Regions from separate parts of the Homo sapiens genome. Here regions 1, 2, 3, 4 and 5 are each reported to be linked to region 6. Evidence: microRNA targets listed by miRTarBase, many of them from high-throughput screens and not tested one by one. Region 6 holds a microRNA gene; each other region holds the end of a gene's coding sequence.
Evidence for each region. Region 6 holds the annotated microRNA hsa-miR-625-5p (AGGGGGAAAGUUCUAUAGUCC, at 2,727-2,747, shown strand). A microRNA usually pairs through its seed, bases 2 to 8, with sites in the 3' UTR of a target mRNA and lowers its output. Matches are read on the target gene's strand: a 7mer-m8 pairs with bases 2 to 8, a 7mer-A1 pairs with bases 2 to 7 and ends in A, and an 8mer does both.

Region 1: miRTarBase lists PRELP as a target of hsa-miR-625-5p. Seed matches in the 3' UTR shown: 7mer-A1 at 1,227-1,233, 7mer-A1 at 2,715-2,721, 7mer-m8 at 2,817-2,823 and 7mer-m8 at 3,077-3,083.
Region 2: miRTarBase lists SOX2 as a target of hsa-miR-625-5p. Seed matches in the 3' UTR shown: 7mer-m8 at 1,971-1,977.
Region 3: miRTarBase lists C20orf96 as a target of hsa-miR-625-5p. Seed matches in the 3' UTR shown: 7mer-m8 at 3,482-3,488.
Region 4: miRTarBase lists PSMD3 as a target of hsa-miR-625-5p. Seed matches in the 3' UTR shown: 7mer-m8 at 3,701-3,707 and 7mer-A1 at 3,591-3,597.
Region 5: miRTarBase lists SDK1 as a target of hsa-miR-625-5p. Seed matches in the 3' UTR shown: 7mer-m8 at 3,240-3,246 and 8mer at 2,411-2,418.

The regions. Positions count from the first base shown.
Region 1 is chr1:203,485,960-203,490,895 of GRCh38, forward strand. PRELP (proline and arginine rich end leucine rich repeat protein) reads left to right here. Exons shown (of 3, transcript NM_002725.4): 3 at 747-4,936. The coding sequence ends at 922. Among named protein-coding and RNA genes, the nearest start is that of OPTC, 5.7 kb to the right of the region's middle.
Region 2 is chr3:181,712,278-181,717,213 of GRCh38, forward strand. It overlaps SOX2 (SRY-box transcription factor 2), which reads left to right. Exons shown (of 1, transcript NM_003106.4): 1 at 1-2,159. The coding sequence starts at 84. The coding sequence ends at 1,037. The region is part of intron 6 of SOX2-OT (SOX2 overlapping transcript); the gene reads left to right. Among named protein-coding and RNA genes, the nearest start is that of SOX2, 2.8 kb to the left of the region's middle. RefSeq lists enhancers at 1-637, 638-1,489, 3,152-4,132, 3,780-3,971 and cis regulatory regions at 3,862-3,867, 3,873-3,876.
Region 3 is chr20:267,554-272,489 of GRCh38, forward strand. C20orf96 (chromosome 20 open reading frame 96) reads right to left here. Exons shown (of 11, transcript NM_153269.3): 11 at 3,310-3,714. The coding sequence ends at 3,654. Among named protein-coding and RNA genes, the nearest start is that of DEFB132, 12 kb to the left of the region's middle.
Region 4 is chr17:39,996,396-40,001,331 of GRCh38, reverse strand. It overlaps PSMD3 (proteasome 26S subunit, non-ATPase 3), which reads right to left. Exons shown (of 12, transcript NM_002809.4): 11 at 3,952-4,002; 12 at 3,373-3,828. The coding sequence ends at 3,751. Among named protein-coding and RNA genes, the nearest start is that of PSMD3-AS1, 16 kb to the left of the region's middle.
Region 5 is chr7:4,264,381-4,269,316 of GRCh38, reverse strand. It overlaps SDK1 (sidekick cell adhesion molecule 1), which reads right to left. Exons shown (of 45, transcript NM_152744.4): 45 at 317-4,193. The coding sequence ends at 3,933. Among named protein-coding and RNA genes, the nearest start is that of FOXK1, 420 kb to the left of the region's middle. RefSeq lists an enhancer at 4,438-4,936.
Region 6 is chr14:65,468,390-65,473,325 of GRCh38, forward strand. It overlaps MIR625 (microRNA 625), which reads left to right and starts at 2,713; the gene lies at 2,713-2,797. The region is part of intron 2 of FUT8 (fucosyltransferase 8); the gene reads left to right.

The DNA.
Region 1 (4,936 bases), not on the chromosome of region 6:
TCATCCTTATTTCAGTTACCATCTTTTGCCCATCCTCATGTCTCACATCCAATTCAAAGGAAAACCTGCAGAGTAATTTTCACATCCACCTACTGGCTTCAGATCTCACCTTACTCCATTGCTTCTCCACAGTGTAGCCGGATTATCTTTGTACAGCATAAACCTGAACATAGGGATCTCTAAGGACCCTTCCAGATTTAACGCTCCAGGATACCATGGTTCAAGTATCCTGTTAATAACATCGCTCTCACAAAGACAGTCCTGTTCACTGCCATTCCTCAGACCAGAGATCAAAAGCCTCTTAGTGAAAGCCTAACTACCTTCCCAGCTTACTCTCCTTAGTACATCACATTGGGCACTATTACTATTCCCAGATTCGCCCACAAGCAGAATTTTGGCCTCCACAACTTCATTCAAACAGATTCCTCTATCAGAACACCATCCCCCAGGTCTCCACCTGTTGTAATTCTACCTATTCTTGAAGGCCCAGTTCAAAATTTACTTCCAATTCTCTAGAGTTAACTTGCAATAACAGTTGTTGATCAATTCCAACTTAATTCATTTTACAAATGAGTAAACTGAGCCTGGAGGTCAAGGCAGCTCATCTATGATCACACATTCCCAAAGCTAGCCAGTTTCAGAGAGAAGTCTACAGTCCTTGCTCTCGGGTGTCTTCCCCCTTCCCCTTCCTCATCTTGGCCGCCAGCCTCCACTCCCTTCTGATTTCTCGTCTTCTTTTTCCGTAGAAATCAACGGAACCCAGATTTGCCCCAACGACCTAGTGGCGTTCCATGACTTCTCCTCGGACCTGGAGAACGTGCCACACCTGCGCTACCTGCGGCTGGATGGAAACTACTTGAAGCCGCCCATCCCGCTGGACCTCATGATGTGCTTCCGCCTCCTGCAGTCCGTGGTCATCTAGGCCCTACTCCGCCACCGGATCTGCTCTGACCGCACTTGAAGGCTGGGGCCCAGGCACCTGTGCCGGCCATTCGTTTTCTCTCTCTCCCTTTCTTTCTCCCAGCTTTGCCTCCCTTATCCCACCCTCGAGGCAGGGAAAAGCCATCTATTCTTCTGCAGCCTCAGGAGCGAGACTTCAAGGACTCAGTTTGGTTCCACCCAGTTGAAAGACACCCAGTGCACACCCAAACTCCTGGCCTTCTGTGGTTTCCCTTTGCTCCAGAAACACAGATGTGTCTAAAGACTTGGTGTCCCCTTCTCTCTCCTCCCCCACCCGCCACTCCTGGGTACATCTGGGCCGTGGACTATCTGATCTTGGTCCTGGCCGAGCAAACAGCCCGGAGGTAAGGTTCAGAAAGTCCCCCTGGGGACTCCTCCATCTTCGGCAGCTCTGGCTCAAAGAGGCCGAGAAACCCAGTTCTCCTGGGCCAAGGATCCCTTCTGGCAAAGCTGCTGCTCCGCCGCTTGGTTCCCCGGCACCAGACATCGCCCTGGCCCTGCTGGCCCGGGTATCGGGAAGGAGGAGCGAGGGAATGACGGAGGTAGGGTGCAGGGTCAGGGCTCCCGCAGGGGCCTGCATCTGGCCAGCAGGACACAGGGATGCGCAGGGCGCCCCCTTCTGTTCCAGGGTGAACATAGCACACGCCCTCCTGGCTGGGCCTCAGGAGGAACAGCCAAGGAGAAGAATGGCCCAAGGAACTAGGAAGCAGCCATGGGAGAGGGGAAGGGTTCAAGCCCGGGATGGGCCCGCGTGACGTCGATGGGTCCTGCGGCCCCCTTGCCCAACCTCGGGTTTAGGGAGGAGGGTTCACAGTGTTTTTGTGGGGGCGGGGGAAGGAAGAGGCAGCCCCGCCCCCGCCATCTGTTCTCCATCAGTGTGCGCGGCCCAGCCATTTCCACCCTCGGGAGGCGGCTCCTGAGAAACAGGGAGGAAGGGGCGGAGCACCTGGACGTCTCCCAGAAGCCCCTCCACGTTTGAAAATGCGCCTCCTCCTCGGAGACAGACGCATCGGTGCCACCTAGTGGCTGGTGGGAGTAACAGCTGGTCCCAGTCTTGCGCCTGGCCCTCTTCCTGGGGTGATTTTCCTCGGTGGAGGAGGCCCGTGGGGTCCCAACACGGAAGAGCCATGGGCCGTGTGCATGGTGTCGCTCTCCTCTAGGGTCTAGCGGGCACAAACGTCCCCAGGCTGGGCTCATTCCCATCGTGAGTGAGCCCAGGTGAGGACATAGTCGGCTCCCGTTTGTTGTAGGCCCTTCCCAGGTGCCTTCTCAGCTCCCTCATCTGTAAACCGAGGAGGTGGATAAGATGCTCCCGGCCGGGCGCGGTGGCTCACGCCTGTAATCCCAGCACTTTGGGAGGCCGAGGCGGGCAGATTATTGCCTGAGCTCAGGAGTTCGAAACCACCCTGGGCAACATGGTGAAACCCCCGTCTCTACTAAAATACAAAAAAATTAGCCAGGCATAGTGGCGCGCGCCTATAATCCCAGCTACTGGGAGGCTGAGGCGGGAGAATCGCTTGAGCCGGGGAGGCGGAGGTTGCAGTGAGGCGAGATTGTGCCACTGCACTCCAGCTTGGGCGACAGAGTGAGACTCCGTCTCAAAAAAGAAAAAAAAAAGATGCTCCTCTGAGGTCCCTCCGGCGCTCATGTTCCGAGTCTGCAGCTCCACACTTTAAATCATACTCGAATGCAGGACAAGTCCTAAATATTTGCCCCTTCCCTTGCAGTAATTTATTTTCTGTATGGACTGTCCCTCCCCCAGAGGCTTCCCCACCCTCCATTGCCTGGCCCAGGTGAGCAGCTTGGCAGGTCTCCAAGTGGAACCCGGTCCAGACAGGGCTGCCTCGACTTCACCTTTCCCCCTAACTTCCTCCAAGGGATGCTGCCCCTTCTCAGCCCCCTGCGTGTGTATATTGGTGGGAGGCATAGAGGATGGATGTTCTAGAAATGAGTAAGACACAGTGCCCACCCCCAAGTTAGGATGAAAAAAGTTCCAGAGGTTTTTAAGAAATTGGATTAAGCTGGGTCCCTAACTTCAAGAAATTCCCATTATGCTCCTTCTCACCTTTCTTTTTTGCTAATTATGGAAAATAGGGCCCATTTCATCATAGCCTCCTTCCCCCGTGCTCCACTACAATCGCCGCATTCTTTCTAGCTGCAGCTGGTTTCTTCAAGGCTCCTGCTTAAAGTCCACACGTTATTATGGCCGAAAGCAACCTGGTGCTTCGGCCTGGATAAGAGCCCCTTCTGCATCTTATTCACAGCTTGCAGCCTCAGCCCCTTTGATGAGGCCCTCAGGGGAGAGGTCATTACCTTGATCCTGCAAACCCAGACTCGTTGAGCAGCAACGCAATCACCATCATCCCACTGCCCAATCTAGAATATGTCTGCTCTCCTTTGCTCTCTGCAGCTGTAAGCCAGAGGGGATTCAAGGTAAATAGGCTTTACAGGCTCCCCTCCTCCAAACACACACAGAATGGGCTGGTTTCTTTCAAGTTTAAAAAAAGCCCCCTTCTCCATGCACAAGTTCATTCCCTCCATGCTGTCGTCATCGACATATACAGGTGTGTACGTAGGTGTATGTGTGTACTCTGCACGTATATCTCTTCTGTCTTGAAGACCCTGTTAACTTTGTGAAATAACTTCCACATTTCAACACACTTCACAGTACAGGAAATAAAGTAATATGAAAAACACCCTGCGTGAACTCAACGGTGTGAACAGGTCAAGAATAACACTTCAAAGTCATCTTGCCAGCCAGGCGTGGTGGATCACGCCTGTAATCCCAGCACTCTGGGAGGCCAAAGCGGGCAGATCACCTGAGGTCAGGAGTTCAAGACCAGCCTGGCCAACATAGTGAAACCCCTTGTTTACTCAAAATACAAAAATTGGCTGGGTGCGGTGGTACATGCCTGTAGTCCCAGCTACTTGGGAGGCTGAGGCAGGAGAATTGCTTGAACCCTGGAGGCAGAAGTTGCAGTGAGCCGAGATCGCACCACTGCACTCCAGCCTAGGAGACAAAACGAGACTTCATTTAAAAAAAATAAAAATAAAAATAAAAATAAAGTCATCTTGCCACCCACCCCCTACCATTGAGCCACCATGCCCAGCCCCAAAGCCTCTTAATTGCTCTAACAAGATGAGTGGGGAAAAGATTATACTCTTAAGAAATTCCTACGAAAGCTATCCAAAAGCCTTTTCTTTCCTCTTTTCTTATTATTTTTAAATAGAGGCAGGGTCTCATTATGTTGCCCAGGCTGGTCTGGAACTCCTGGCCTCAAGTGATCCTCCCACCTTGGCCTCCCCAGAGTGCTGGGATTACACACGTGAGTCACCATGCCCAGCCCCAAAGCCATTTCTTGAAGAATTTCTCGCAAACTCACAACCCTCATGAAAAATTAATCCTCAGTTCCACGAGACTGCCCACCCACAGACAAAAAAATATATATATTCCTAAAGTCGGACCAGAAATCTGACAGCTGCCTTTGAAACCCAAAGCCTCGGGTTCTTTCAAGCTACATGTACTAAATTGTCGAAGGTCTCCCAGGAGCTCTGTACTGAGGCAGACACAGAAAGACACAAAACGGTCGTCTTTCCTGCCCAAGTAAAGCTTACAGACTAACTGGGGAGATGTAGTGTGCATACAAAACAGTAAAAGAGCCATCTCAAGGACAGAGAGCATAGACCAAGTCATCTGGAATGGTCTACATGCCATGCGGAAGTCCACCGAAGGGTTAGAACAGGGTGTCCCAGACTCTCTCTTCTGAGGGAAGGTTGGTTGCAAAAGTGGGATTCATGACCCTCCCAGGCTACACCATCTTCTTTAGAATGAGAACTGCCAGGTGACGCCCTCGCTGCTCCTACCTGGCTACTAAACATCGACTTCGGTTCACTTCACGGATGTTCAGTGGATATCGGTCACATGCCAGGTCCCCAGCTACGCATTCAAGGATGGATAATATACATAGCAGCACAT
Region 2 (4,936 bases), not on the chromosome of region 6:
CCCCCGCCCGCGGGCCCCCCAAAGTCCCGGCCGGGCCGAGGGTCGGCGGCCGCCGGCGGGCCGGGCCCGCGCACAGCGCCCGCATGTACAACATGATGGAGACGGAGCTGAAGCCGCCGGGCCCGCAGCAAACTTCGGGGGGCGGCGGCGGCAACTCCACCGCGGCGGCGGCCGGCGGCAACCAGAAAAACAGCCCGGACCGCGTCAAGCGGCCCATGAATGCCTTCATGGTGTGGTCCCGCGGGCAGCGGCGCAAGATGGCCCAGGAGAACCCCAAGATGCACAACTCGGAGATCAGCAAGCGCCTGGGCGCCGAGTGGAAACTTTTGTCGGAGACGGAGAAGCGGCCGTTCATCGACGAGGCTAAGCGGCTGCGAGCGCTGCACATGAAGGAGCACCCGGATTATAAATACCGGCCCCGGCGGAAAACCAAGACGCTCATGAAGAAGGATAAGTACACGCTGCCCGGCGGGCTGCTGGCCCCCGGCGGCAATAGCATGGCGAGCGGGGTCGGGGTGGGCGCCGGCCTGGGCGCGGGCGTGAACCAGCGCATGGACAGTTACGCGCACATGAACGGCTGGAGCAACGGCAGCTACAGCATGATGCAGGACCAGCTGGGCTACCCGCAGCACCCGGGCCTCAATGCGCACGGCGCAGCGCAGATGCAGCCCATGCACCGCTACGACGTGAGCGCCCTGCAGTACAACTCCATGACCAGCTCGCAGACCTACATGAACGGCTCGCCCACCTACAGCATGTCCTACTCGCAGCAGGGCACCCCTGGCATGGCTCTTGGCTCCATGGGTTCGGTGGTCAAGTCCGAGGCCAGCTCCAGCCCCCCTGTGGTTACCTCTTCCTCCCACTCCAGGGCGCCCTGCCAGGCCGGGGACCTCCGGGACATGATCAGCATGTATCTCCCCGGCGCCGAGGTGCCGGAACCCGCCGCCCCCAGCAGACTTCACATGTCCCAGCACTACCAGAGCGGCCCGGTGCCCGGCACGGCCATTAACGGCACACTGCCCCTCTCACACATGTGAGGGCCGGACAGCGAACTGGAGGGGGGAGAAATTTTCAAAGAAAAACGAGGGAAATGGGAGGGGTGCAAAAGAGGAGAGTAAGAAACAGCATGGAGAAAACCCGGTACGCTCAAAAAGAAAAAGGAAAAAAAAAAATCCCATCACCCACAGCAAATGACAGCTGCAAAAGAGAACACCAATCCCATCCACACTCACGCAAAAACCGCGATGCCGACAAGAAAACTTTTATGAGAGAGATCCTGGACTTCTTTTTGGGGGACTATTTTTGTACAGAGAAAACCTGGGGAGGGTGGGGAGGGCGGGGGAATGGACCTTGTATAGATCTGGAGGAAAGAAAGCTACGAAAAACTTTTTAAAAGTTCTAGTGGTACGGTAGGAGCTTTGCAGGAAGTTTGCAAAAGTCTTTACCAATAATATTTAGAGCTAGTCTCCAAGCGACGAAAAAAATGTTTTAATATTTGCAAGCAACTTTTGTACAGTATTTATCGAGATAAACATGGCAATCAAAATGTCCATTGTTTATAAGCTGAGAATTTGCCAATATTTTTCAAGGAGAGGCTTCTTGCTGAATTTTGATTCTGCAGCTGAAATTTAGGACAGTTGCAAACGTGAAAAGAAGAAAATTATTCAAATTTGGACATTTTAATTGTTTAAAAATTGTACAAAAGGAAAAAATTAGAATAAGTACTGGCGAACCATCTCTGTGGTCTTGTTTAAAAAGGGCAAAAGTTTTAGACTGTACTAAATTTTATAACTTACTGTTAAAAGCAAAAATGGCCATGCAGGTTGACACCGTTGGTAATTTATAATAGCTTTTGTTCGATCCCAACTTTCCATTTTGTTCAGATAAAAAAAACCATGAAATTACTGTGTTTGAAATATTTTCTTATGGTTTGTAATATTTCTGTAAATTTATTGTGATATTTTAAGGTTTTCCCCCCTTTATTTTCCGTAGTTGTATTTTAAAAGATTCGGCTCTGTATTATTTGAATCAGTCTGCCGAGAATCCATGTATATATTTGAACTAATATCATCCTTATAACAGGTACATTTTCAACTTAAGTTTTTACTCCATTATGCACAGTTTGAGATAAATAAATTTTTGAAATATGGACACTGAAATTATTCTTGAGTCTTTCATTTATTTGGATAACACTGTGATTATACATAACTTTTCGGGGAATTATAATACTGTGCTCAGCCAAGAAAGCAAAATACCAAAAACCTTGGTATTACTAGTCCAGCATCATGTGCTAATGTTAACTGCAAAAAAGAAACGGCTGGATGATTAATAAGTACTGGAAAAATTGAAATTTCTGTCATTTCTAAAATAGAAACTAGAGACATATATTGTAAATCCGCCCCCTCCTTTTCTAAGCAGCATGAATAAGCATGATGGGGACCTATACTTAAAACTGATTTATGCCACTTGTTGCCAGAAAGGATTCAATTCTGAAATTTTTCATGTAGTTTAGCAGATGGGATATTGAGCCAAATCAGAACCAGGTTGGCTGGTTTTGTTTTCATTTTCTTCACAGCACAATGGCCCTTTGAAACCTGGCTATAGAGAAAAATGATGCTTCTTGTATCAGAATAATTGCAAACTAGACATGCAAAGTGTTCATCTGCTGGGTGGGTGTTTGGATTACTCTGGCCCTGCTATTGTCTGAGAGGAAACAAGTGGTTTGCTTTCTTTGTTCCTTGACTTCATAAACTTTCTCCTCTACATTTTCCTGTTCGGGGAGAGGGAAAGAAAAGAACATCTTGCAAAACTCCCCGGCTTATCATAAACATAGTTTTTTTTATTATTTATTTTCTTTTTTCCCCTCTCTCTCCCTCTCTCCCTGAATTCCATTTCTTAAATTGGCAGCGCGGGTCCAAGCCTGTAGCCCCAAATCGGATAATCTCTGCAGCTGATAACAAGCAAAAGAGAAGCCAGGCAACAGCCATATTAAAGAAGAAAACAATCAACTCTGAGGTAGATATTTTACTTTGTCCGGTCTAATCACATTTGGAGATGATTATGCTTTTGATCTGTTAACAATGTTTTACTACTGTAGTAGAGAAGTGGGGGAGGGGAAAGGGGTGGGGAAACAAGATTGGATTTGTTGTGTGGTGGTTTTTTTTTTTTTTTTTTTTTTTTTTTTTTTTTTTTTTTTTTTTTTTTTTGCCCTAGGAAAGGTAAAGAAAGGCTATAGTTGTCCTCAGTGGGAGTGGAAAAGTTGAGACATCGCCATGGTCTTTGAATTAGCGATGCTTCTGCATCACCACCCACCCTTGCTTTGGGGCAGCCGGATAATCTGTTACCTAGTCAGGGACTTTTCTACTTTATTTACTACTTGATTCGCTCGTCTTCCCCCACCCACGGGGACCAGGAACCAACAATCGGGCACTTTTAAGAGCACGGGTTTGCTTCCCACAATTTCAAGAGCTTGTGTCAACTTGCTACAACTTTGGAGAAGTTGGAATCCGGCAGCGTCTTCCACCCTTGAGTAAAGTACCCGCTGCAGCCACTAAGTTAGCTCATCCCGTTGGTTTGCATCTTCTCATTTCCAAGAAAGTATTTCTTTCTCATGGTGTTGCTAATGTTAGTTCTGGGCTGAACTGAGGATATCTCATATTTTCTGTACTTTCTATTTTTTTCTAGATTGCTTTGTTTTAGATATGTACTGGTTTTTATTTATTACTTTTTTAATCCTCATTTTTAGGATAACATTGTACTGGGAAGGGACAATTATTATTCCAGTTCCCAATTCTAAGCAAGGCATTTTCCCCCCTAATTAATGCAGAGACTCTAAAAGAATTTCCCCTAGCCTGGCCAGCCATTGTAATGCATATACGGATTATTCACGTGGTAATGAGCACATTCGCCAGTTCTTGCTCACACATACGAATAAAAGAAACTTTGAATAAAGATCCAAATGATCATCCTGGGGGAGTGGGGAGGATATTCCCGGAATTTGAGGCAGTCAAATATATAGATTATATATATTTTGAAAATAGAAATATATTAGAAATATGTATAGAGGTTTACAGTAATTGCACTGCACTCACCTCTCATTTTTTAAAAAAAAGCCCACAGGGTCAGCAACTTTCTGGCAAAATGGTCAGGTTCAAATATTTAGCAAAAGGAAAGGGAGCACAATATTTTGGGAAGTAGAACTAGCTTTGAATAATTGTCACTATCTGCATAAAACAAGAGAACTCCCGTTCCCCCTTCTACCCCTTCATATCGCCGAGCCAAATAGTTGAAAAATGAAAGTCAAAATATTTTGTTTGCAAATATAAATGCTTTTGATAACTACATCTGAGGGAAATGATATATATCTTGTACGATCATTCATTTGATTAAATTAAATGGTTACCTGAGATATGTAATTTCATGGCTAGATTAATATCGAACATATAATATTTTAATAATAATGTGATTTTCAAGGAGAGTAAACCCATAAACTTGCCCAGAGATGGTTATCTCATGGTGCTGAAGATAGTTGTTGTTTAGTTCTTTTCCTCGGGATATTATTCTGCTCAATGAAACCACTCAATTTCCAGTCAAATAGGGTGAATTTAAATGTTTTGTTAACTATATACACAGAATAGAAATGTGCAAAAGGATGAGAGTACAGTCTGTTCTTTCTGAAATTTTTTTCTCTCCCCAAACCACCCACCCCCCCCCCACCACATACTTTAAATAAAGAGCGTTAAAATATTTTGCTGAGCTGTAGTAGATTAGCAAGGTTTCTTGCCAATGCTGGGAAGCTGGTATTACAGACCATCCCAGGGGAAAATGGCTCACATTAACCACTAAATGAATATTTGACAAGGGCTCATTCGGAGGTATTATTGCTATAAACGTGTCCCTACTGGACTTTTCAAGGGTCAAAGAGCAATGCTTCAAT
Region 3 (4,936 bases), not on the chromosome of region 6:
CACTCCACCACTATGCAATATATGTATTTGTACCCCGTAAATCTATAAAAATAAAAACTACATTAAAAATAATAATAATGTCTGGTCATCTAAATAGTACCTCTACAGCTTATTAAGTGCTCTGGAGACGTCCCAGTTGCCTGTCCTTCCCATTAAAGGTGATATCCAGTGCTGATTTCCCCTTCAACCTCGGGTTCCCATAAACCTCTTCTTTCTCACTCCTGCTGCCCTCCGGTACTCCAATAAAGAATGATAGATGGGCCGGGAGCAGTGGCTCACGCCTGTAATCCCAGCACTTTGGGAGGCCAAGGCGGATGGATCACCTGAGGTCAGGAGTTGGAGACCAGCCTGGTCAACATGGTGAAACCCCGTTTCTACTAAAATACAAAAATTAGCTGGGCATGGTGGCGGGCCTCAGTAATCCCAGCTACTCAGGAGGCTGAGGCAGGAGAATCGCTTGAACCCGGGGGCAGAAGTTGCAGTGAGCAGAGATTGTGCCACTGCACTCCAACCTGGGCGACAGAGCAAGACTCCGTCTCAAAAAAGAAAAAAAGAAAAGAAACAGTCCCAGTATGCATCCATGTGCATGTGCATGCAGGTGTATCTGCCTGTGAGAGCTGCGCACGCGGCTCTGAGTACCTGGGAAGACACCCATGTACAGATGCTGTACATGTGCGGGGTCACTCTCTGGCGCATTCGGAGGCATGAGGGCTACGTGCAATGCGAGGGAACCTATGTCCAGGCTTCCTTTCTTGGTTTTCCTCCTCTGAACTCATGCATCCCTTCACAAACAGTCCAGCTCCTGGCTAAAAACCTATGTGTGATTTTTCAGCCCAAACACAGGCAATGACAGGTTTTACCTGGCAGGCCTCACAGCTGAGTCGTGCACAGCTGATGCGTTGCAGTCTTTAAAGACAGTTGCAGACACAGACTCAGGCCTCCTGGACAGTCGACCTCTCACACACATCTCCGCTCCCAACCCAAGTCTTCATTCAGACACGTCTTCATTGCAGTGGGGTAGGCCTTCGGCCAGGACCTCCTTATCTTGGGGAGTGGAGAATCCTTGAAGACACTTTCCTCCATGCTGACTCAGAAGTTTTCCCACTCTCCCTTCCCCACCCCATCCCTGGCCCCCAGGTCCGTACAACTTCAGGAGCCTTTTTGTTGGAAGCTTTTCTGCAGTGAGACCAACCCCACACCTGTGCTCATCCACCCGACCCCAGTTGGCATCATTCTATGAGGAAATTAGAACAGGTGGATCTGTGTTCTACAAAATAAAACAAACCAGGTTCTCTGGTTTAGCCTCTTTCTTGTACTGTAATAATAAGAGATTTGGGGCTTGGCTATTACTTGCTTTGACTTTTTTTGTTTTGAGACAGGGTTTCGCTCTGTCACCCAGGCTGGAGTGCAGTGGTGCGATCTCGGCTCACTGCAACCTCCGCCTCCTGGGCTCAAGCAATCCTCCCACCTCAGTCTCCCTAGTAGCTAGGACTACAGGTGCACACCATCATGCCCAGCTAATTTTTATATTTTTTATAGAGATGGGGTTTCACCATGTTGTCCAGTCTGGTCTCAAATTCCTGAGATCAAGCAACCCACTGGCCTCAGCCTCCCAAAGTGTGAGGATTACAGGCCTGAGCCACCATGCCGGGCCATCATTAATCAGCTACTCCAGCACTTAGCAGTTCAGCTCTCTCCTGCTCAGCTGAGCTCCTGATTGTACAGTGGTTAAGAGCAAACTGCCTCTGCCACTTAGTAACCTGGTGACTTGAAAAATCACTTTGCCTTTTCATCCTTTGGTTTCTTCATCTGTAAAATGAAAATAACAATAAACAATACCTACTTCACAGGGTGGTTGTTGTGAGGGTGTAGTGAGTTGATGTATGTAAAGCATAACGTAGGTTCCATTGAAGTGTTTGCTATTGTGTTCAACAGGGTCCATTTCTGCTTGGAGATCCACATGGCTCTGGGGAGTACCTGTTGGCTCAGCCTAGGTCACGTGTTCCACCTTAACCATCCCTTCCCTGCTCCAAGGTAGAGCCCGTGACCTGAACTAAACCAGCAGGCACGCTCCACCTCCAACACCGGCTCAAGGTGGGCGTGTAATATAAGCTGGTTCAATTAGAATGAATCTTTTTTTTTTTTTTTTAAAGACGGAGTCTCATCCCCCATCACCCAGACTGGAGAGCAGTGGCACAATCTCAGCTCACTGCAACCTCTGCCTCCCAGGTTCAAGCAATTATCCTGCTTCAGCCTCCTGAGTAGCTGGGATTACAGGTGCCTGCTGCCACGCCCAGCTCATTTTTGTATTTTTAGTAGACACAGGGTGTTGCCATGTTGGCCAGGATGGTCTCGAACTCCTGACCTCAAGTGATCCACCCACCTCGGCCTCCCAAAGTGCTAGGATTACAGGCGTGAACCACTGTGCCCAGCCCAATTACAGTGAATCTTAATACACTGGCTGAAAATTCTGGGACACAGCCAGTCTCTCTCTTTCCAACAGGACATGTACAAGGACCTGTACAACCCTGGGAGATGCTGGCATATTGGGGCCACAAGCAGTGCTGACCTGAAGAAAAGGGCAACACCTCAGAAAACAAAGTAGATAAATAGAAACCAAGTCCTTGGTGCCATCACTTGATTTCTGGACAAAGCCTCACCTAAGCTATTTATTGACCTGAGCCCTTCATAGTTTAGGCCAATGTGATTTGGTTGTTTTGTTACCTGTAACCAAGTATCTTAACACAAAGTGGATCTGTGAGTGACCAGAGCCTCTTGGGGGTTGTAGCAATCTAGTAGTTGGCCCAGAAAGGCCAACTCTGAGATGGAGTGTAGGGTGCAGAATGTTGAGTAATGAGTGCTCTTGGAATCAACAACTGAGGAAGACAGAAATATGCAGGATTGGGCACAGGGAGAAGTTCAGCTGCAGTGCAGGCCCAAGGGTAGTTGCAGCTGAGCCTTCAGGAAGTTCTGGAGCCAGAGTAGCCCTTCTGAGTTGTTCCAAGCACTGAAGGCCTAGCAAGTTCCAGGGGTATTAAAATCAATAAGCCTGTCAGCCCCGACAATGCCCTCAATAGGTCTGGGCACAGATTGGAGAGAAGCTGGGCTCCCACTGCACCAGGAGGGAGTGGCCCAGAGCCACTGAGCCATGGAGACTCAGGCAGGGGGTTGCTCCAGCACTTCTTCTGGAGAAGTTTTGAGCCCCAGATGCAGTTAGCACAGTTGCCCGCCCCTTATCATAAGACGAAGTCCGTTCCCACCACATCTTCTGCAAGACCTAGCTGGGGACCCCGAGACACTGGCAAAAAAGCAAATGTAAATCCAGCTTTATTGGTAAAAAAGGAATAGCAGATTTAATCAGAAATTCCCACCTGGCCCAGCAGCACCAACCAGAAAGAAGGGAAGAAGAGAGGAAAAAACCACAGGAAGAAAGAAAGGAGGGAGGGAGGGAGAGGAGGAAGGAAGGAGGAGGGAAGGGAAGGGGGGAAGAAGGGAGGGAGGGAGGGAGGGAAAGAAAGAGGGAGGAAGGGCAGAGGGAGCAGGGAGACTGTAGATCAGGGTCTGAATGGAGATCCGGTCCTGGAAGTAAATGATCCAAGGCTCCAGGTGCTGGGAAGAGAGCAGGAGGGGAGGGCGGCCCATGGCACTGCCATCTAGAAGGGTAGTGGCTCTTCCACAGGAATGTTGAGGATGACATCCATGTCTGGGGTGCACCTGGTGGGAGGCAGCACAGAAGGCCATGAGAGACCAGAGGTGGCGGTGTGGGAGCACCCACTCAGAGGAGCCCTGCTCTTTAGAACTCTGGTACGTACTTGGGTTGGGGGGCAATCCCAAAATACAATCTGTGATCTATCTGTGACCTCAAAGCCCAACTGTGCATACACAAGCATACACACACACACACACACACACACACACACACACACATACACACACATCAAAAATGGAAAAGAAATGAGTTTGGCAGGACAAATGTTCCCCTGACAAGTCTGAGGTCAAGAGGGAGCAGGAACTCAGCTCTGAAATGCTGAGGGCCCTCAAGATGATCACTGGCTTTGGAGTGAGGATGACAGGTTTGATAACTTTGACCTGTGTCACCTTGAGCAAGCTATTTCTACTCTCCCAGCCTCACTCCTTCAGTTGGCACTTAAGTGAAAAGCACTCATTAAGTCCCAGACCCCAAGTGAGCCTCAGTTTCCTCATCTGTCAAATGGGTTTAATATTCTAACCTCAGTCATTGGTGGAAAGATTAAATGAGACCATGCCAGCAGGTAATAAGTGCTCAGTAAATGACAGGCATTATTATTTCCATGAAAGTAGCAAGAGAGATGGATTCCCATCAGCAATATATTCCCCATTGCAGGGACCAGCACAAATATTTAAGAGGCTGAAGGATTACATTCTGTTTCACTCTCTTTTCTCTCTTCCAAGGAGACCATCCTCTCTCATGGTTTCAATAATCTGCTGATACACATGAAGTATTTAGGCAGGAAATGTCAGGATACTTGCAATTTACAAATACTATTAAAAAAATGAACATGAAACCAACATAGAAAAAAAAAAAATTTCTAAATCTAGATGGGCAAAACTGGCTATTCATTATATCATTCTCTCTTCTTTATATTTGAAATTTTTCATAATAATAGTAAAAAAAAAAAGTTCATCTCTATGCTGGCAACACCTAAATTTCTACTTCCAGCCAATATCTGTCCTCTGAGGTCTACACTCATCTTGTCAATTGCCCACCCAATGACTCCACCTTGGCACCTCATATAAATCAAACTTACTGTCCAAGTCAACTGTATGGTTTTTGTTTTGTTTTGTTTTGTTTGAGACATGGTCTCACTCGGTCACCCAGGCTGGAATGCAGTGGTGCAATCACAGCTCACTGCAGCCTGGAACTCCTCAATCGATCCTCCTGCCTCCCAAATAGCTG
Region 4 (4,936 bases), not on the chromosome of region 6:
TTACCCAGATCCATCAGCGGAATCACTATGGCAGCTCTAGCCTTACAAAATGTATTTCTTAAAAAAGACTTGAAAGTTGAAATTACTTCTTCATCCATGGGCTGCAGAATGGATGTGTTAGCAGGAATGAAAACAATATTATTTCCCTGGTATCCCTCCATCAGAGCCCTTGGGTAATCAGGTGCATCGTCAATCAGCAGTAATAACTTTAAAAAATATTTTTTTTGGCTGAGTGCGGTGGCTCATGCCTGTAATCCCAGCTACTCAGGAGGCTGAGGCAGGAGAATCGCTTGAACCTAGAAGCAGAGGTTGCAGTGAGCTGAGATCATGCCACGGCACTCCAGCCTGGCCGACAGAGCCGACGAAGGAGTTGGTCTCAACAGTGGCTTAAAATGTTCGGTAAACCATGCTGGGAACAGATGGGCTGTCATCCAGGCTTTGTTGTTCCATCCACAGAGCACAGGCAGAATAGATTTAGCATCATTCTTAAGAGCCCTGGGATTTTCGGAATGGTAAATGAGCATTGGCTTCAACTTAAAGTCGCCAGCTGCATTAGCCCTAACGAGAGTCAGCCTGTCCTTCGAAGCTTTGAAGCCAGGGATTGACTTCTCTTCTGTAGCTATGAAAGTCCCAGGTGGCATCTTCTTCCAATAGAAGGCTGTTTGTCTACATTGAAAGTCTGTTTTTGAGTGTAGCCACCTTCGTCAGTGAGATCAGCTAGATCTGATGGATAACTTACTGCAGCTTCTCCATCAGCACTTGCTGCTTCACTTTGCACTTTTATGTTACAGAGACGGCTTCTTTCTTTCAACCTCACAAAACAACCTCTGTTAGCTTCTGACTTTTCTTCTGCAACTTTCTCACCTCTCTCTGCCTTCAAAGGATTGAAGAGAGTGAGGGCCTTTCTCCGGACTAGGCTTTGGCTTAAAGGAATGTTGTGGCTGATTTGATCTTCTTTCCAGACTCAAACTTTCTCCGTATCAGCAATAATGCTATTCTGCTTTCATATCATTTGTGTGTCCACTAGAGCAGCACTTTTAATTTAATTTATCATTTTTATTTTTTATTGTTTTGAGACAGAATTTCGCTCTGTCACCCAGGTTGGAGTGCAGTGGTGCGATCTTGACTCATGGTAACCTCCGCCTCCCCACTTCAAGCGATTCTCCTGCCTCAGCGTCCTAAGTAGTTCGGAGTACAGGCATGCACCACCACGCCCAGCTAATTTTTTGTATTTTTAGTAGAGATGGGGTCTTGCCATGTTGGCCAGGCTGGTCTCGAACTCTTTTTAAAACATTTTTTTTGAGACAGAGTTTCGCTTTTGTTACCCAGGCTGAAGTGCAGTGGTGTGATCTCGGCTCACTGCAACCTCTGCCTTCCGGTTTCAAGGATTCTCCTATCTCAGCCTCCCGAGTAGCTGGGATTACAGGCGCCCACTGCCATGCCTGGCTAGTTTTTGTATTTGTAGTAGAGACGGGGTTTCACCATGCTGGCCAGGCTGGTCTCGAACTCCTGACCTTGTGATCTGCCCGCCTCAGCCTCCCAAAGTGCTGGGATTACAGTTGTGAGCCACCGTGCCCAACCTGGAGCAGCACTTTTAATTTCCTTAAAGAACTCCCCCTTCACAACTTGGCTACCTGTTTGGTGCAGGAGACCTGACTTTTGGCCTCTCTCAGCTTTCAACATGCCTTCCTCACTAAGCATAATCATTTTGACCTTTTGATTGAAAGTGAGAGATGTGTGATTCTTTCTCCCTTTTTCTGTTTTCTTGTTTTGAGACAGGGTCTCACTGTCGCCCAGGTGGGAGTGCAGTGGCAGGATCTCAGGTCACTGCAGCCTCTGCCTTCACCTCCCAGGCTCAAGGGCTCCTTCCACCTCAGGCTTCCTAGTAGCTGGGACTACAGGTGCGTGCCACATGCCCAGCTAATTTTTATATTTTTTGTAGCGATAAGGTTTCATTGTGTTGCCCAGGCTGATCTCCAACTCCTGAGCTCAAGGGGTCCACCAGCCTTGGCCTCCCAAAGTGCTGGGATAACAGGCGTGAGTCACCAGGCCTGGCCAATGACTCTTTCTCTCACTGGAACACTTAAGAGGCCATTGTAGGGTTACTAACAGGCCTAATTTCAATATTATTTTGTGTCTCAGGGCATGGAGAGACTCAAGAAGAGGGAGAGAGACAGGGAATGGAGTGAGCAGTGTGAGCAGTGAGAACACACTCGACATTTATTAAGTTCACCATCTTTTTTTTTTTTTTGACAATGTCTCACTGTGTCACCCAGGCTGGAGTGCAATGGCACGATCTTGGCTCACTGGAACCTCCGCCTCCTGGGTTCAAGCAATTCTCCTGCCTCAGTCTCCCAAGTAGCTGGGATTACAGGCGCCTGCCACCACACCCGGCTGTTTTTTGTATTTTTAGTAGAGACGGGGTTTCCCCATGTTGTCCAAGCTGGTCCTGAACTCCTGACCTCAGGTGATCCACCTGCCTCGGCCTGCCAAAGTGCTGGGATTACAAGCGCGAGCCACCGTGCCCGGCTAAGTTCACCATCCTATATGGGTGCAATTTGTGGTGCCCCAACAATGACAATAGTAACATCAAAGATCACCGATCACACATCACCATAACAGATATAATGAAAAAGTTTGAGATATCGAGAGGATTTACCAAAATGTGACCCAGAGACGCTAAGTGAGCACATGCTGTTGGGAAAATGGCACCGACAGATTTGCTTGATGCAGTGTTGCCAGAAACCTTCAATTTGTCCTTTTCTTTTTCTTTTGAGACACAGTCTCACTCTGTTGCCCAGGCTGGAGTGCAGTGGCGAGATCTTGGCTCACTGCATGCTCCACCTCCCGGGTTCAAGCAATTCTCCTGCTTCAGCCTCCCAAGTAGCTGGGATTACAGGCGCCTGCCTCCATGCCCAGCTGATTTTTTTATTTTTAGTAGAGACGGGGTTTTGCCATGTTGGCCAGGCTGGTCTCAAACTCCTGACCTTTAGTGATCCGCCCACCTTAGCCTCCCAAAGTGTTGGGATTACAGGCATGAGCCACCATGCCTGGCCAAACCTTCAATTTGTAAAAACTGCAATAACCGTGAAGCACCATGAGGTGTATTGGGAGATGAAGGTCTGCAGCTGGTGATGGACACATGGTACACCTTTCCTAACAAGACCTTACCAAAGCCACACAAGTACGAAAAGAGAGTAAACCTAGGCCCCCGACCCCAGGTCAGGGTCCCTTCATCCTCCCCTGGGCACCTCCCCATCTGCAGACCCATCGCCCTCAGATTACACACCTGGGGCTAGTACTCTAAGGCCAAAAAACCCAAAATCTGAGCCTGCCAATACTGCAGTGAAGTATAGTAACTGATGCACAAAGCACTGTGGAGAACTTTTTATTGTTTAAAAATCATAATCGAAGCTTCAAAAAACATACAAGCCAAGACATCCCAGTTCTAGTCCCCCACTCCCTAAAGGAGTACACAGAACTATCCTTCCCCTCCTGCTCCCACACTGCTGGCCAGGACCCTGCCCGGGGAGGTTGCCTGCCCACCCTCCTGCCTGCTGTACAGTAAGTCACCGGCTGGGGAGGAGCCCTGGGGGAGGTCAGGGTGGCTGGCTCCCAGCACCCCCACCCCCTGCACGAATGCAGCATATGAGCTGTGTGTGGGAAAATGGGGACAGTGCCCTGGGCAGGGGACCCCCAAGGGGGAAAGAGCCTGTCCCCATTCCCCCTACCCCTCCCCAGCCCCCCAGCTCAAGGGAAGCTGTCATCATCATCTTCTGCCATCTCCTTGGCAAACTCCAAGTCCTGCTGTTCTCGCTCACGCCGTTCCTGGGGAGAGAGGCAAGTGAGGCCAAAGCTTCAGAGCAGCTCAGCCCTTCCAGACACTCGCCCGACTCCCCTTCTGTGTGGAAGTTTGACCTTTCGGTCTCACCCAGAAAGCAGAGAGCTTACCTCTGCAGACTCCAAGTCCTTGTTGTACGATTTGGGAGGAAACCTCATGGCCTGGGGCACAGCAAAGAGAGGAGATGAGCGAGGGAAGGAAGCAGGTGAGGCACTCACGCAACCTGCACTCCCTGCGTCCCCTCTGTGAGCTAGACACCAGGCAGGAAGCGGCGGGCCCCTCTCCAGTTAGTCTAGTGGGGGGCTAGGCATCAAAGGAATTATTACAGTGCCCTGTGGGAAATGCTGAAAAAAGAGGAATAAACGACCAACTCTCTTGACTGGGCAGGGAGGAGGAAAAGGAGGAACACAGTGGATGTGGCAACGGGGAGAGGCCTTCCCGGTGGAGGATTCCATGTGGGAGGGGCCTGGCCTGCACCCAGTGGGCTGGCTGCTGGGTGGTGGGGCAGGAGTGGGAGGGGAGGCTTGACCTAAGGGACCAGGTCACAAAGGGCCTTGCATGTCACGTGGAGTAGGGCTTAGCCAGATTTTAAGCAAGGCAGCAATATCCTAGTTTCCTCGGAGGAGACCAGAAAAAAACATGGCAAGCAAATAGTAACAGCGCCAAACTCAGTGCTTAACTGAGGATAAGGGCTCACCCTTTTGTGGAGCTAGATACCAGCGCCATCTTTTTTACAATTTAGACTTCGCTAAGTGCCTCAATACAGGGACTTCTTTTAATCTTACCAACCCTGTGAAGCAAGCAAGACAGGTAACACCTCCCTATCAGCTTCAGAGATGGAGAAACAGAGCTTTGAGAAGTTAAATGCCTCAAATTTGGAACCAAATGTAGAACCCCGCCCTCTGAATCCCTGCCTGGTCCTCCCTGGTGACCACATCATCCCTTAAACGCAATAGGAGAGGGCAACTGGCTATGGAACTATGGCCAAGTCCCCTCCCCATTCTGGGCCCCCTGTGCTGCAGCTCAGTGATTTTACAGAGATTGGCTGGGACGTGGGCCACAAATTAAGCCAGTCTTCTCTGAGGAATCCATGAG
Region 5 (4,936 bases), not on the chromosome of region 6:
GAGTTGGGCTGGCCCTGGGAATGGCTGCTGGTCCATGCAGGGGGGTCTCACTGGCTGAGGCTCCATGCTGCCTGCCCCAGGTCACCCGGCCAGGGTGTGGAGTGGCTTTACCCCTGACCTCAACTCCAATTTTGGGGGATGCTGCCTGTACACACCTGCATGTCAACAGGATAAAGGTAAGGGTGTTGGGGGTGCCGGGGGTCCAGCACGGCACTGGGGTGAAGTCCCAGTGGTTCATATTTACAGCTTTTCAAATCCAGAAGGTTCCTAAGGTCTCCCGAATAATTGCATCAATGCTTGAAGAAAATCACAAGCGTTTAAGGAACAAAATAATGTTTTTATTAAAAATTGTACCCATAGCACCTCTCTGTCTTCCTACAAGTTGTTTCTTTTTTTCTTTTAATGAGATCTGTTTTTCTGCACAATTTCAGAAAAAGTTGTAGGGAACGTTTAGGGACCTGACGGCTCCCTAAACCAGAAGGTGACGCGGGAAGGAGACGTGTCCCAGCGGGCAGGCTCAGCTCATGAGTTTCCACGTTGTCCTCACCTTTCAGACTGGATCCATGCTACCAGGACGCTGACCCACGGGGAGCCACACTTAGGTACGCAGACGGGTTGCTCGTCAGGAGGATAGCTACACTGTGTGCCAAGAATGCGTAAGAAATAAAAACCATGCTACGAACCATTAGGCAAACATCATGCTTCAGCCCAGTCACAGTTAGATACAAACACGGCCTCCGAAGACCTGTACAGAGTGAGCCACCTCCCGGGGCTGTGGAGGCGCGTTCCGTGTGTGGCCATCTGGGTCCCCTCTCCCTGGGGCCCCTCGTTTTTTGGCTACAGCATTGAGTGAAGTGCGCCTTATAAAAGCAGGCTGGGAGAGAGGCTGAAGGCGAGGCTGGGGAGAGGGGCTTGGGCTGGACCGATTCACCCAGAAGGTGGCCGTGCAGGAGGCCGAGGGGGTGTGGCCTGGCAGCTCTCTCTGGGCTCACCTGCCTGGAATCTCTGCCCTGGCACCCCAGGAGGAGGGAGCTCTGCACACCCATCCCTGTGGCTCAGACGGAGCCTCCTGGCCACTCCGTGACCACATCCTTGCAGGGTGGGGCCGAAGCAATCTGAAATGAGCCACGTTGGGGGTGGGTGGGGAGACTCAGCCACTGCTGTCATGAGGCATCCGCAAGGCATGACTTTCAGCACGGCAGGAGAGAGCGGGAGCACATTCCATCTAGCCTGGCTTAGAGACATTTTGTTTGTCCTCTTTTTAAAACCGAGATTAAAATCCAACCTCCATCTTCCTAGGCTGTGATTTTCTTTTCCTTCCCTGAAGATAAGGAGTTAGGAACTGTTGCTTCTCAAATGCCGCATTGCTCTGGGAGGCCAAAATCTACCTGGAAACATCCAGCTCTGTTCCTTTGCACAGGTGGTTCTCATGGGACAGAGTCCCTCCGAGGCATGGGCGCTGTCCTAAGCACAGTCCAGCAGCAGCCAGGAGGCCGGCGTAGCCTCGGACAGGCCGCTCCGTACAGATCAAGGTTTACTAAGAGTGGAGGGGAGACGGAAAACATGAGCTTGAAACAGAAGTGTCATGATGTTGTATCGAAAACCCGAGAGCAACAAACATATCTCGAATCTGCTCATCCTCAACCTAAGACGTCTCAACACTCTCCCTGGCATGTAAAGCCACATCCTCATGGCTGCAGAGAGCAGTCATCAGAGTGCACAGAAAGCAGCGCTGGCCATGGTCTCCATTTATCGCTTCTCTTCCAAGAAATTCCAGTGCTCACATCCTGGCTTCCCGCCCACTTCGCCCTCTCCGGGGCCGAGGGGAAGGAGGTGGCACTGTCCACTGTGGTGAGTCTCATCCGGGGAACTGTGGGTTGCGATTCTCATGCAGAAGTGGCTTTGGGCAGAGCATCTAGGATTTTTGGTTTAGAATATTTCCCCCTCCACTCAGAAAAAGGAGGAGAAAAGGAAGAAGGAATAGGGGAGAGAGGAAGGGAGGGAGGGAAAGAAGGGAGGGAAGGAAGGAGGAAAGAGAGGAAGGAAGGGAGGGAAGGAGGGAGGGAGGGAGGAAAGAAGAGAGGAAGGGAGGAAGGAAGGAAAGGAGGGGTAAAGGAAAGGAAGGAGGGGAAGGAAGGGAGGAGAGAAAAAAGGAAACTTGCCATACCCTCTAATTTTGGAAAGACTGAAAAGGGGTTTTCCAGCCTATACAAAACTCTCCTTGGTCTCCTGGGGCCATACTCAGCAACGCTGACAGCACAGAATCCAGGCAATATCCACACCCTCTGCCCATGGAGGTGCACAAAACATCTAGGTAAGCAGGGGCCACACTTTCTGCATGTGGCCAGGAGACTGGCTCCTGGGTGGCACTGGTCAGATACTGCTCAGTTGTCCCCTACCCTCAGGTCACTGGGGGAACGGCACCTGCCCGTTTGCCGTGCACTGGGGGGCACTGACAGGGTGGTCTTGAGTCTTGTGTGTGTCACGCTGCTGCTGGTGAGGGGGCACTTACAGGGACCCGGGGCACACACGCCAGTGGGCACCAGCAGTGCTCCCGTTCCATCCAGACCCGGGACCCGGGCTGAGGGGTGGACCATGGCAGCCCAGTCGTCTGTTGCAAAGATGACGTGAGGGGCTGGAGGCATGGCCATCTCTGAGCTGTTAAGTTTTCCAAAGTAGTTCATACTCTTTTCATCTAGCTGAAAAATTTAAACCAAACAATGACAATTTTAAATAAAAAAAAGAAACATTTCCAAAAAACCTGTTAAGGCTAAAAGCTGGCCTCGGACTGGGAGAGGGGGCAGCAGCAGCGCCAGTGGTGGAGAAGCGGTGGCTGCTGCGAGCAGCCAGCAGAAGCCAGGACAGAGGGAGGGGACGGCCTGGTGTGCACGAGGCGAGTCGGGAGCGTGTGTTCTCAGAGCTGTTTTGCTTTATTTGCAGACACTGTTGCTTTTCATCTTTCCCATGTACAAAGCTGAACAATTAATAAAAAGGCACCTGGAGACAGCAAAGACGCATTCATTTCATGTGACATAGTTTAAAAAAAGATAAAAAGATTTTAAAAATACTCTGGTTAACAATGCACGCTTCCTACGTAACAAGCAATTCTGGAGACGCCGTCCCGTGTCCTCGTGTCCCGCGGAGTTGACCGTGTGCTGTGTTCGGGGAAGGAGAGGGCCAGCGTGGTGGCTTCCAGCCCTAAGAGGCTTCCCTCTCCCTCGCTGTCAGGTGAGAAGGAAGGGGGAAAGACAGGCAGAAAAGCCTGAGGACCGCACCACTGCAGTGACACAGACAGTGACGGCTGAGCCACACCTTAGCATCCCTGCCTGGCCGTCAGGAACCTGAAAGCCGACTCCTTGACTAGACACTGCCAAGTGAGAACATTTCAGAAACAGATGAAGTTGGGACAAAACGCACTGAGCCCAGGGAAAAACGTTTGCTCTTCAAACCCCAGGAGCCGCCGAGGATGTCCTGCGTTGAGAAGGGTGTGAGCCGCTGGTTCTCTGGAAGAGGAGGTAGAAAGAGACGGGGGCCGGCCGGGGCAGCTCTGAGATCTCACCTGACCCTCCACTCCCTCTCCCCGCTTGACCCTTCCTAGTTGGTCTTGAAGACGGAGAAACCCAGGGCTGGGGAGGTCTGAGGTCCTCCCAGGCCCCGGAGGTGCCAAGCCATTGCACCAGTGAAATACACCTTCTCTTAAAAAGAAAAGAAAAAGAAACAAACCTGCTTCCTGCAGCGAAGTTACAAAAAGCCGTTTAAAAAAACCTTCCTAATTGAAATCTAGTGTCCACAAGTAGGTAAAATCATCACTTATCAGATTTTTTTCTTTTTAAACAAAAACTTCAGCTCAGTTATTGGAGTTGATTGTCTTAACAAAAATAGACTCCGGAAAGTTGCCTCCGTTCCGCCCTGAGGGAGGCGCGGCGCTTTGCTCACACGAAGGAGGAGAAGCCGGTGAGCGGAGTTCGCGCGCCGGGGCCAGCGGGGGTGTAGACGCCGCCCGCGCTCTGCGTGGTGATGACCGGGTGCAGCTGCGCGCCCGCCTCGGAGCCCGCCACCGCCTCGTACCTGTGCGGCGCAGGTGCGCGGCCCTGGGCCCTGCGCTTCCATGAGTTGTAGTAGGTGGGGTCGCTCATGTAGTGGTTCACGAAGGAGTGCTTGGGCAGCGCGTCCTCGTAGTCAGAGTCCGTGGCCTGCGGGGAGCGGGAGAGAAGGTGTGAGTGCAGGGCAGGGCGCAGGGCCCGGAGCGTGCTGGGCAGGAGGCCTGGCGGTGGGGGCACCTCCCCAGGGGCGTGTGTCGCGGTCTCCAGCCCTCTCCCCACCCCAACCCAATGCCAGGCCCTCCCACCCTCCACACAGGAGAGCAGGCAGCCCCCAGGTCCCCCTCCCTGATCCAGGTGTGACCGACACTGCATTTTCTCAGCTGCATCCAGCCCCTCACTCTGTACCAGGTTTCCGAGAAGAGCTGGGCCTCCACCCAGGAGAGGTCTATGCAGCCTCCCCACTCAGGAGCAATCTACATGGTCTCCTCACCCCAGGAGAGGTCTACACGGCCTCCCTCACTCAGGAGAGGTCTACACGGCCTTCCTTACCCCAGGAGAGGTCCACACCGCCTCCCCACTCAGGAGAGATCTACGCAGCCTCCCTCACTCAGGAGAGGTCTACACGGCCTTCCTTACCCCAGGAGAGGTCCACACGGCTTCCCTCACTCAGGAGAGGTCCACGCGGCCTCCCCACTCAGGAGAGGTCCACGCGGCCTCCCTCACTCAGGAGAGGTCCACGCGGCCTCCCTCACTCAGGAGAGGTCCACGCGGCCTCCCTCACTCAGGAGAGGTCCACGCGGCCTCCCTCACTCAGGAGAGGTCCACGCGGCCTTCCTTACCCCAGGAGAGGTCCACGCGGCCTTCCTTACCCCAGGAGAGGTCCACACGGCCTC
Region 6 (4,936 bases):
TTTTTTTTTTTTTTTTTTTAACACTAAATATTTCACTTCACTCTTTTTGCTTGCATGGTTTCTGAAGAGAAAGTTTGATCTAATTCTTTATTTCTCTGTGGATAAGATGTTTTCTGTGTGTGTTGATTTTTTTCTTTACCTCTTGCTTCTTTCGAGATATCTTATTGGTCTTAAAGTTAATAAGGAAAAAACTAAAGTTTTGCTTTTGATTTAGTTTTCTCTTTGTCTTATTTTCTGCAGCTTCACTATCATTTGCCTATGTAAATATTTTGGTATTTATCTTGCTTGGTGTTCTCTGAACTTCCAGGTTTGGTGTTTCTTACTAAAGACATTCTTTCCTGTTACAGTGTTATTGATTTGTACACTCCCCTTCCTCGCCTCCCCTCTTCACTGTTTTTTCCTTCTCTTTACTCTTCCTTTCTTTCCACAGGATCTCACTCTGTCACCCTGGCTGGAGTGCAGTAGTGGCGTGATCATAACTCGCTGCAGTCTTGAACTCCTAGGCTCAAGTGATTCTCCCTCCTCAGCTTCTCAAGTAGCCAGGACTACAGGTGTGTGCCACCATGCCTGGCGATTAAAAAAAAAATCGTAGAAACAGGGTCTCCAATGTTGCCCAGGCCGGTCTTAGAAAAAAGGACTTAGCTGGGCATGGTGGTGGCATGCACCTGTAGTCCTACCTGCTTGGGAAGCTGTGGCAGGAAGATTGTTTGTGCCTAGGAGTTCAAGGCTACAGTGCGCTGTGAATCACCACTGTACTCCAGACTGGGTAACAGTGAGACCCTGTCTCAAAACATATATATAAAAAAAAATTCCTGGTGATAATTTGATAATTCCTGGTAAAAATTTCTGCCACATCCGAGTCTGTTTCCGAGGCTTGCTTTGTTTCTTCAGATTGTATTTTTTGCCTTTATAGTGCCTCATAATTTTTTTTCATAGCCAGACAGAATGTATCAGGTAAAAGGAACTGAGGTAAATAGGCCTTTAGTGTGAGGTTTTATGTTTATCTGTTTAGAAGTCAGGCTGTGTTTAGTGTTTGTTCTGGCTGTGGTATCGGAGGCAAATGTTACGGGATCTTTAAGGTGTTGCTTTTCTGTCTAGAAACCTCTGTGGCCAGTGGCGCCTTTGCCCGAGTTCTTGTCCTGTGTCCAGGAAGAATTATGTATGCAGACAAGTGGAGGGTGAGCAAGACAAAGAGAAGCTTTACTGAGTGTTAGAACAGCTCAGAGGAGAGCTGCAGAGGGCAGCCCCTCTCTATAGGCAGGTTGTCTCATCCAGTGTTCAGCTCTCAGCAGAGAGGAGGCCCTGGAGTGAGTGGCTCCTCTCTGCAGGCAGGTCCCCATTGACTTCCCAGCTCTCAGCAGAGACGATAGCTCCTCTCTGCAGCTAGTCATCTGGCTGTCTCTCTGGCCTCTGCCCTGCTCTGGCTGATCTCGGGGCTTTTATGGACCTCAGTGGGGAGGAAGTGTGTCAATTGGTACATCGGTGGCCATGGGTGGGCTGGAAAAGGCACCACAAGCCCCCACTGCAGTCTGCGGGACTGGCAGCCCGGTCCCCAACGTTCAGGCCCTCCCTGGCCTGAAGGTGGGGTCTATCTGGGGACGTGCCCCCTTCCACCCAGGAGCCTGTCTGCTTCCTGCCACTTTCCATGGCTCCCAGGCTGCTTGTGCCAAGGGGCACCTGCCTGCCAGCATGGAGCAGCTCTCCACCTCAGCTTCCTCAGAGGGGGCCTAGGCGGCAGGGCCTGAGCATGCGCATATCCTGTTGGGCTGTGATGATATCCAGGCTTGGCTCCAACCCCACTCTGAGAACCTGCCACATTGGAGCCGGTGCGGGAAGTGGCAGCGGGAACAGGCATTTCCGAGCCTGCAAAGGCAAGGGGGGCCTTCCTGAGCCCCCAAGAGCACACGGAGGCCTGGGTCCACAACCCTGACTTGGGTAGCTGCAGCTGTATGGGGTTGGGGGACAGGGCTCCTGCCTGTTTCCAGTCCCCAAGAGCACATGGAGGCCTGGGTCTACCACCCAGGCTTGGGTGGCTTGGGCTGCTGCCTGCTCCTGGCTCCCACTGGCACTGTGGAGCATGCAGCCCTGGCTCCGCCCCCTTTCAGCCTGAGACAGGGGCTCCAGATCCTTGCTGGACCTGGGCTGGGATCCGGGGCAGGGGTGACATCGCCGGGAGCTACCCCAGTTGCCCTGGCGCTTCAGTGGCCCAGGCAGAGCAGATAACTGTCCGGCCTGGCTGTTGGGAGTGGCAGGCTCAGCAGTCGCCTGATGTGGGGTGGACCCTGGGGATGTAGCCCCGGGCAGCCCTGCACAGAGCCTCCTCCTGAGGCCCAGGAACCTGGCACCCTCAGTGGGGTGGGCGCAGTGGCTGTGTCACTGGCTGGTCCCTGAAGTGGGCACCGCTCCCACTTCCTGCCTCAGGCCCCTGAAGCTCAGCCTCAGCTCTGCATCGGTCTGCTCTCTGCTTGACTGTGCTGCACAGAGGGCGGCGGGCTGTTGAGGGAGGGGGTCTGTCCGCCTCTCCCTGTGCCGTCCATGTACCAGAAAGCCACCGCCATCACTATTAGAGGCTAAAATTTCTTCTACTGTCCTTGCTTTTATCTGCCCTGTTGTCTTTGGGTTTTTGTAAAGAATCCTTAAATGGGGTCTGAGGCTTGCAGGTTTTTAAGTTGTAATCCTGTGTTGTACAAGAGCTGTACTGATGTGGTGGTAAGGGTAGAGGGATGAGGGGGAAAGTTCTATAGTCCTGTAATTAGATCTCAGGACTATAGAACTTTCCCCCTCATCCCTCTGCCCTCTACCAACTGTGAGCCTGAGTTGAGTAACTGTCTCTTTTTCTCGGTCAAAGGATAGATGGGGCTGGAGTTGGGTATTTCCCTTCCCTCCGGTTGGTTAGGCACTGTAAAACCGTAGTAGGTTAGGCAATCTAAAAGCCAGTTGGTTAGGTTCTGGTAAAATAGTTTCCTTTTCTGGAATACCTTTTAAGAGAAATAAAGTTCCTGGCGTATTTCAAAATGGTTTTTCTTCTTCCCCTGCTGCAAGCAGGAGGGGTTTTTTTTCAGATCTTTACCATGAGAACCTGGTAGGGCTCCTGGAGGTAAAACTCAGGAAAGTATGGGGACCCCTGTAAGACTGGTCCCCTTACAGTTTTTAACTCTCAAGCTAGTCCACAATTACTGTTTCAAGTGTTCCTACTGATGCTGGCTTCAGTTGAGAGCTTGTATTCCTGGACTTCTGCTTCCTGCACACTGTGATTCTCTATCTGCCTGTCTTGTCTCTCCAGGTTTTAGAGCAGCAGTTTGCCCTCTGACCTCAATTCTCTGATGGCTCTAAGAAGAGTTGGATTATCAGTTTTTTTTTTTTTACCCCCAGCTTTTTTTCTTGTCGTGAGGTTGGGAGTGATGAATTACAAGCTCTTTACAACTGTACTTAAGGTTATTTTTTGACCATTTTTGATGCTTTTGTAACTAGTCAAAAGACTTATTACAGTATCCTTTATCTCATTTGGCAGTATTGTTCATTAAGAATTTTATCTCTTTCTGACATCAGGTCTGCACATTTTGGGGATAATATATTCTAATTTGCAAGAAAGATTAAAAAACTTCTCCAGAGGGAAGTTGATCATAGGACTGATTCTTATTATTGATGAATTGACTGCCTTGTCTTGTTTTGTGTTGCTATGTAGGAATACCTGAGGCTAGGTAATTTATAAAGAGTTTGATTTACCGCACAGTTCTGCAGGCTGTACAAGAAGTATGGCACCAGGATCGGCTTGTAGTGAGGGCCTTAGGCTACTTCCACTGATAGCAGAAGGCAAAGAGGTGCCAGCTTGTGCACAAAATGAGAGAGGAGAAAAGGGTGGGAGGAGGGGCCCTGGCTCTTTTTAACAACCAGCTCTTGGGGGAACAAATAGAGTGAGACCTCAAGCATGCCTGAGGAAGAGCATTAATTTATTCTTGAGGGTTCTGACCCCTCCCCACCATGCCCAACAACATCTCCCATTAGGCCCCACCCCCAACATTGAGATCAAATTTCAACAGGAGGGACAATCATCTAAGTGATAGCATAGACTCAGGCTATTTACTATTCTGTTTTCAAGTATAGATTGAGGGCAACAGCAGCCTTTGTTTTCTATGTTGATGGCCAAAGGTTTATTTTTATATTCTTATACTGTAAAAAAAAAAACAACTTTATTTTTATAGCCTTTTTGGGTGTAGGGTCATGTCAGGCTTTACTAATTGCACTTCTGATAAGTATACTGATGATGCTGAGGATGGTTATTAAAGCCCTATGCTGATACTTTGGATTTATGGAACCAATTAATTTGATGACTCATTTACATTGAATTTCTTAATTAGTAGATTGCCCACTAATTATTTTTATGAGCACAGAATAAGGTAATGTTTATTCTTATTTTTTTTGTGATATGGTAAAAAACTTAGTTCATATAATGAATTTAGTGCTCAAATATCTTAGTAGAAATTGAAGTAGAAAAAGACATTGTTGTAAATTAAATGTAAGATATAATTTTATTTTCTTTAGAAAACTTTACATTGAAAAGATCACATTATAGATAATTTAGACAACTTATTTATAACTTTTATTTATTATTATTATTGAATGTAAAAGAATTACATGCAGTCCCATGATCTTAACATAACTGTGGTTACCATGTTGGTATATGTGCCTTTTAGTCCTTTTTCATACACAATTTTTTTTACAAAGTTATAATAATAATTTCTTTTCAAATTTGTGCCTTATTTCAGTTAACAGTGTAAATGTTTCCCATTTCTAACAATGTTTTCTCATTGAGTGAGGTACTGTTAGGTTGGTCAGACTGATAGTTTATTGTACGTATTGCTGTAATATCTTTGTACATTTAGCTTTTCCATGTTTGTACCATATCTTTGGGTTTTCAGAAGTCTGTCTCTCTCTC